Linked DNA regions of Homo sapiens. The protein of the gene in region 2 purifies or fractionates together with the protein of the main gene of each other region. This does not show direct contact. Each region holds a gene or a part of one and is shown on either strand. Other genes may lie near its edges. The genes, in order: DCBLD2 and ATP8A1.

Region 1 (3,829 bases), on a different chromosome or scaffold from region 2:
CAGAAATACTACCGTAACTCCAAATGTAACCAAAGGTATGCAAACATGGAAATGAACGCCTAGTACATAGTATTGTTTTGTTCTTAACTGAAGTTTTCACGGGCATTTTTAAACCTTCAGTTTATTTTCTTCCAACTATAGTTTTTAAGTATAGCAAAAAAAAAAATTTATTTTCTTTCATAGGAAAAGACTGCATTGATCTAAGTTGTAGTCTCTGCTGCCATGTAGAATTGCTCTTTAAATATTTAGAGAAGGCCACTGTGTTGCAGGCCTCCTCTTGTGATTTATTGTTCCTTACAGCTAAACATGTTGACTCTCAGGCTTAGAAATACAATATTTTCTAGAAATAACTGAAATCATAGCAGGAAACAAACTTGTTTCCCTTGATAATATATTAATTTGATGGATAGGGAACTTGATGGCAAAAAGGGGAAAATAAAAACAGAACTTTTAGTAGAAACTAGTAATTGTTAAAAAATACTCATAGTTAACATATTCATAAAAAAAAACTTTGGTCTCTTTTTAAGTGTTTGCAATTATATTTTTTAAGATCATAAATAGAAATTTATTAGAATTTACTTTCAAGTTTTGTTATCAGTGATAAATAAGGTCTCAAAATACATAAAACATAGTAGTCTTACTAGTTGTTGAAAAACAAAATTTCAATTGAATTCAAAAAAGTGTCAGTGTCATAGTAGACTAAGTATCAGAGTTGTCACATAAAAAGCTTCCTTGTTTTCAGGAAAGTGCAGAGAGAGAAAGCCGTTCATCCAAAGTAATTTGTGCCACATAGAACTTCAGTCATTCTCATTTTTTGAAAGTTTGCCTGGATTCAGATAACTTTCTCTGACTTTCCCCATGTTGGTTCTTTCCCATCTTCTGAAGTATTTTCACAAAGATGAATTACTTTCTCATGCTGCAGGTACAGCTAGAGAGAATCAAGGGTTCTCAGAGGCAGGAGATCTCAGCATCTTTTAACTGCTTACCAGTTGTCAGAAGGCATGTACTAAGGCAGAATCCCAGACCACATGCCTGGATGGAGATCAGTCACTGAAAAGTGTTGCTCATCTTAAAATCTGATTGCATCTCAGACCCTCAAGGCTAAAAAGAGTCCTTAAATAATTTCCTTCCAGAATTAGGATCCCTGTATGCCCAAAAAGAATAACAAAGAATGAGTTGGTCTTCTCAGAGACCTCCTGTCTCTTTTTTAGGGGGATGGTAGTATATAAATTTATTTTTTGAACCTAAGAAGATGTTTTAAAGCCTCTGATTAAATCACACAGCATCCATCTAAACTTGATTATCTTCTCTTGTCTCACTAATCTTATGGAAAAAGCACATTTACCGTTGTGAATTCTGAGTGCTTTCTAGTCTAAGTCATTATTTCTGTTTATGGACTTCTCCATTTTTACAGCCAGGCTGAGAGTGATTTCATGGAAAAGATTATGTCATGGTCAGATTTGTGCCTCTGTAGTTTCCAGGTCCTCCCTCAGTGGGGCCCGTGGCACCAGCTGGCTGACCTTCTGAAAGGCTGCAGTAGCTCTTCTGTCTGTTCTCAACTGTAGCTATTTTACATATTCCCCTTATTTTCAAGCCCTTCACCCAGATATCTTCACCCACTCTCAGTTACCGCTCCAACTTCACAGAGAAAGTAGGGAGTTTCCTTCCAGTGAAACTCCCTTTTTGTGGAGCCTACAAACCTATCTGTATCCTCTGTTCACTGCAGTGAAAAGGGGGCTTCCTTATGTTGCCCAAGGCTGATTATATCACCTGTGCCCTGGTTCCCCTCGATCTACCTCTCAGGGACCCAATCTTACTGATTATCCTCTCCCCCTCCTGTATCTTCAGCCTCTTTCTCTCTTTTGGATACAGTTGTTTTAAGGAATAAAGAAGATGGTGCAGGTTAGACTCATTGCAGTGTCCGGCTCTGAGCCCCCAGTAAATATCAGCAGGTGCTGCTATTATCATCTTCATGGCAAGTAGGGGGTTGAGCGACAAAGGAAGAAACTAATATCCCAAGTGACCTTAGGCAGATCATTTTCTATATCTGGGCCCAGAATTCCTTATCTCTGGAGTGAAATTAGGGGATTAAATGATCCCTAAATCTCTCCCAGTTCCAGCATTATGCTGGCTTCTGACCTGGTCACACACACATTTCCAATTGACTTTCTTAACACCACATTGTTACCTTCCCATATATATATATATGAATGTTTTGCCATTATGATGTAACGTCATTTCAATTGCTGGATTATTTTCTCTTGTAAGGAGGATACCATGATTTATTCCCTCTCATTTTTGGGCATTTGGATTATTTCCAATTTTTCACTCTTACGCAGAAACAGGGAGAACATCTTTAAGGATGCATCTTTTTTTAGTTTCTGAGAATAAATTCTAGGAATGGAATTGCCAATAGATTTTTGTACATATTGCCCAAAAATGCCAATCAGTGAGATAGCATCAGTTTATATTTCCATTAAAAAATAACTGTTTCCTGGTAGCCTGTTCATCAATTAGTTGTTGTTTTAAATATTTGCCACTTTGATTAGCAAAAGTAGTATTTTGTTGTTTTAACTTTTTTTGTGTTGGTTGTTTAACTTGTATTTCTTTGATTACTAGTGAAGTTAACATATTTAATGGTTACTTGTATTTTTTAATGTATTACTAGTTAATCTCTGCTGATTTTTCTCTTAAATGTTTGGATTTGGCTTGTAATGCCCTACAATATAATAATTATTTAAAGTAACTCTTCTCATATGTAGAAAATATATTTTCCCAATTTTTCATTTGTCTTTCAATTTTATTTTAGTGATTTAAAAATTTAGGAAAATTTCACATCTCTACACAGATGGAATGAATAGTGTAACAAGCTTTTGTGTATCTGCAAAAGCTTCTACAGTTACCACCACATGCCCAGTCTTGACAAATAATGTTTATGGTATTTCCGTGAGGTAGAAAAATGTTGAAAGATGATGTGGTTAATTTTCCCTAGTGATTTCTGCCTTTGGTGTTAATATGGCTTTTGTTTGTCTGTTTTTGTCTTTGTAACTTCAGATGTAGCGCTGGCTGCAGTTCTTGTCCCTGTGCTGGTCATGGTCCTCACTACTCTCATTCTCATATTAGTGTGTGCTTGGCACTGGAGAAACAGGTTAGTACATAACTAGTTCACCTGAGTCCAAAACTACCAAATGTGAAGTAGAAGCTAAATATAGAAGATGAAAATGTTTACCTGTTTGAGAGTGAGAGTTAAGGTAATTATTAAAATGAAAATTTCATGCTTCTCCTTTATTCCCATTAAAAATAAATAAGTTCAATTCCACAATCAGTTACTAAGTACCTTTTTTGTATCAAGTTCTGCATTATACACTGGGATATGTACATTAATATGAACAATTTCTGACACATGATAGTTACATTTACTTAAAGAATGAGACACAATTCCTTTCTCTGAAGTGTTTAGCAGGGTTGACTAACAAGGAACTATATCATGTGGTTTGATGAGTTATGAACCATGAGAATTAACTGAAGTTTTTTCTTCGGGAAAGGGGACTCCTCAAGTTTGGCTTGCTTTGCCTTAAAGGAATTGTAGTTGGCTAGATAGAGGAAGGTAGATGTCTTTGTTTGGGATGCTGTAAGAAAATACCATAACCTGGGTGACATAAATAATAGAATTGATTTCTCACAGTTCTGGAGGCTGAGAAGTCCAAGATCAAAACACTGCAGATACTATGACTAGTGAGGGCCTGCCGTCTGGCTCATTCATCAACAGTGCCTTCTTGCCCGATCCTCTCATGGTGGAAGGGATAAACACGCTCTCTCAGGCCTTTCC
Region 2 (3,829 bases):
TATCTACTTCACATCTCATGCTAACATTTAAATAAAAATGAATAGGAAGACATGGCAGGGTGTTTTATTTATCAAATATATTTTATAAGAGATTAAAAAATTGGAAACAAAACAGGCTACAAAAGATGCCACAATGTACTTACATAAAACCTCTAAACTGCCAAGTCAAAGGCAGTATTATCTAAGCACCCATATAATGTGTGAAGTTTTATACACACGTGACTGCCTTCTGTTGTTAAGAAGGGAGCTGAAGACTTAAACCTCAAGATCTACATATGTATTTCTAACAAGCTTACTTTGAGCTATGGGTTTCCATCACAAAATTTTATATTCTGAAAAATTCTAGTAAATCCTAACAAGTAAGCATATGCTAGAGGTATAATTTACAACTATGCTGTTCAATACAGTGGCCACTAGTCACATGTAGCTACTGAGCACATGAAATAGTACAAATTGAGATGCACTATAAAATGCCCACCAGATTTAGAAAACGTAGCACAAAAAATGTAAACTACCACTCATAAATTTTTATAACAAAATATTGAAATAATATTTTGGATATATTGGGCCAAAGACAATTTATATTTATAATACATATTAGTATTTATATATTAAATACACTATTACTTGTATTATTTAATATTAAATATATAGTATTAAAATTCATTTAACATCTCTTTTTACATTTTAAATGTAGCTGCTTGATTGTGGCTCACGTTTTATTTCTTTTAGTGCTGATCTGAGATATAAATGCTGATTTGTAAGTAGATTCCATGGAACCATTAGCTAAATCTAGTTGGTCTAAATTTGACCTTATTCCTAGCAAAAAGGAGAAAAAAGAGTAATATCTCAGCTATCATGTCAGGGCCACTACATGAAATAATAAAAGTGGTAAGTTGGAAGCAGAGTCCACAATACATCAGCAGATAGAAATGAACCATTCTTGCTCAAAAAGTAGTAAAACCAACAGATACCTGGTCAAATCTTATTAATTTAAAACCTCATTTAAAAATACTTTGCTTTAAGACATACAATATAATTTTAAAACCTACAGAGACAAAAATTAACTGAAAAACTGAAATGAATTCAGACTGATACCAATATCAAAGTAGCAATAATTGAAGAGGGAAACTAAGCATACATGACTCAATATAAGAAAGATGCCAATTCTCTTAATATAAATTTATAAACAATGCAATTCCAATAAATATTCCAACATGTTTTTTAACTTGATTCAATGATGTACTCATAAATTCTAGTAGAAAAATACAACTGTGGGGGAAAGAAAACCCAGAAAAACCTAGAGAAAAGAGCAAAGCAAATGGGACAGCTAAGAGAATATTTTTTGTTATGTTGCAATAAAGGAATTTGATACCAGGGGCTAAAAGGGACCAAAATAAAGAGAGGTGGCGGCGGGTGGGGTGGGGGGAAGGGAAAGAGAGACTGACTCCAGAAAAAAACTCAAATATATACATACGGAAGCACCTCAAATCAGTGTGGGAAGAAAGGATTATTAAATATATGGTTATTATGTCAGGTAAATAATTTGAGGAAAAACTTAGATCCAGGCCTCACATTTCACCACAAAGTAAATCACACAGGAATTACTAATATAACTGTTTAAAATGAAACCCAAAAGTACTAAAAGAAAAATATAATTGAAAAATTATCTTGAAAAATATGACATTAAAGCAGAAATTTAAAAAAAGGAAAGATTATACTTCATAAAAATTAATTTACATACATGTTAAAGCACTACAAAGTTAAGATAAACTATGAATAAGGAAAAAAGGTATTATCGTTAACATATAAGTTCTTAAACTTCAATACAAAACTTGATAAACAATTCAGAAAAAAATAATCACTACATTTACCAAAATATGTTAAACCTAATAAAGCAATGTAAACTTAAAGACTTACTTTTTACATTCTATATCCATAAGGAGGAAGAAAAATGCTATACAGTGCTGCAAAAGGGATAAACAGGCACTCTCATTCACTTTCAGTGGGAGTGTAAACCAGTATAATCTTTCTAGCAATTTTCAAATATGTATCAAAAGTCATAAAAAGATATATACTTTTGACCCAGAAATCCCATTTCTAGGGACTTTGAACAAAACCATCAGAAAGGTGTACAAAAAGATACAAAGATGCTTATTCAAGAGTTTAAAAAACTGAAATGACCTAAATGTCCACCCACAGGGTTCTTTAGTAAGTTATTCTGTACTAACATAAAAATGCTAAGCTGTCATAAAATTAATAAAATTGATCTGTTCATTCAACAAAAATTTACTGAGCTGCTACCAAGTGTCAAGCACTATTCCAGGCACTAAGGATATAACTAGTGACAGTAGACAAAATTTACACAAATCTATATTGGCACAGATATCCATAAAATTATTAAAAATAATGCAGATTACCTCATTCTTCCTAACAAATATATCTTTTCTGGAAAATAGTTGGGAAGGACATATACTAAAATTCTAACATTGTAAATATATAAATTTATATGAAGTATATAAAAGTTTATAATCACAATGTGATTATATTTGGATGGCATAGTTTGTGATGAATTTTACTCTCTCCTGCAAGACTTTCTGAAGCATGAGTTTTTCCCAGTAAGCAGGCAGTACTTCTATCAAGACTCATAGTTAAGCTCTTCCATTAAAAACAAAGCTCAGAGTTATCCATTCATTCAACAAATATAGAGTGGTGGCTATGTGGCAGACAAAACTCTAGGTGTAGAGGGTACAGCAGCGAACAAATCTCACAAAAACGCTCCTTTGGGGTGCTAAGGTTTCAGTAGGAGGGTACTAGATTTAGTACATCTAGATTTAGCTCTGAGTATTTTACAAATTGGATTATAAGGCATTTTCATCTTTAGGACATAGATTCATTCATTTAACCAATGCCTACTATGTGCCAGGCAATGTCCTCATGGGGAGCAATATATCAGTGGACAAACCAGACAAAACCCCCTGCCCTTAGGGAGCTTACTACCCGGAGAATACAATCATTGGAAGGTTTGGGCTCCTTTCGCTAAGAAGTAAAGAATGAAGGGGAAAGTGGTGGCCTTCATGTCATTGACATTCCAATGAAACCATGTGAATAGAGACCCACGCAGCAAACATTTCGTTAACTTCAAAAGTGTCCTCTGACCTTTGCAAACATTCCCACAGCTGTAACATTAGGTATATGCTTCAATTCTGTTTTTGAAATGACAGAAAAAACAAACCATGAATTCTGCACTGAAGATAGAAAACCTAAAATAATCAGATCTAATACACTTATATCTCCAGAATTACACTAAGTAAAATGACACCTACTTTGAGATTTTCAAATATTGATGACATGCTGTATCGCTATACTCATACACACCTTCTCACACAGTGCCACTTCAGGTAAAACTGAACTCATCTCCATACTCATCTCCATGTTTCCTTTGGGACCTCCTTCATCGACCACAGCCTTTTGTCCCACCACCCATTTAGCTGGCACACAGCTGGTGCATAATAAGTGGTTTTTAAAGGAACAAAAACCTTAGTCATCTTTTACCTGGAATAGCGTCCTAAAATTTTTCCTTTAAGGACAGCTTAAATTACTTTTTATTCCTTTTGTTACCTTTTATGTAAATAAAACATACTATTCTACATAGTTACAAACATTTTAGAGTTGCCATTTAGAAAAACAATTCCTAAAACAACTTCTGGATACATCGTTTAGCACATATTTTACATAATCAAATAAATGTCATTATATTTTAGCATTATAGTATTCAACAGAAGAAAACACAAACCACTGGATAGGTATGTGAAGTTTTTGTGTGTGT

The links.
Region 1: the proteins of ATP8A1 (region 2) and DCBLD2 fractionate together in Homo sapiens (co-fractionation; one large-scale study listed by BioGRID). This does not show direct contact.

The regions. Positions count from the first base shown.
Region 1 is NC_000003.12:98,807,400-98,811,228, reverse strand, and holds part of DCBLD2 (discoidin, CUB and LCCL domain-containing protein 2 precursor), read left to right. Parts: coding exon 1-35; intron 36-3,054; coding exon 3,055-3,148; intron 3,149-3,829.
Region 2 is NC_000004.12:42,646,949-42,650,777, forward strand, and holds part of ATP8A1 (phospholipid-transporting ATPase IA), read right to left. Parts: intron 1-3,829. UniProt on the Homo sapiens protein: Catalytic component of a P4-ATPase flippase complex which catalyzes the hydrolysis of ATP coupled to the transport of aminophospholipids from the outer to the inner leaflet of various membranes and ensures the maintenance of asymmetric distribution of phospholipids.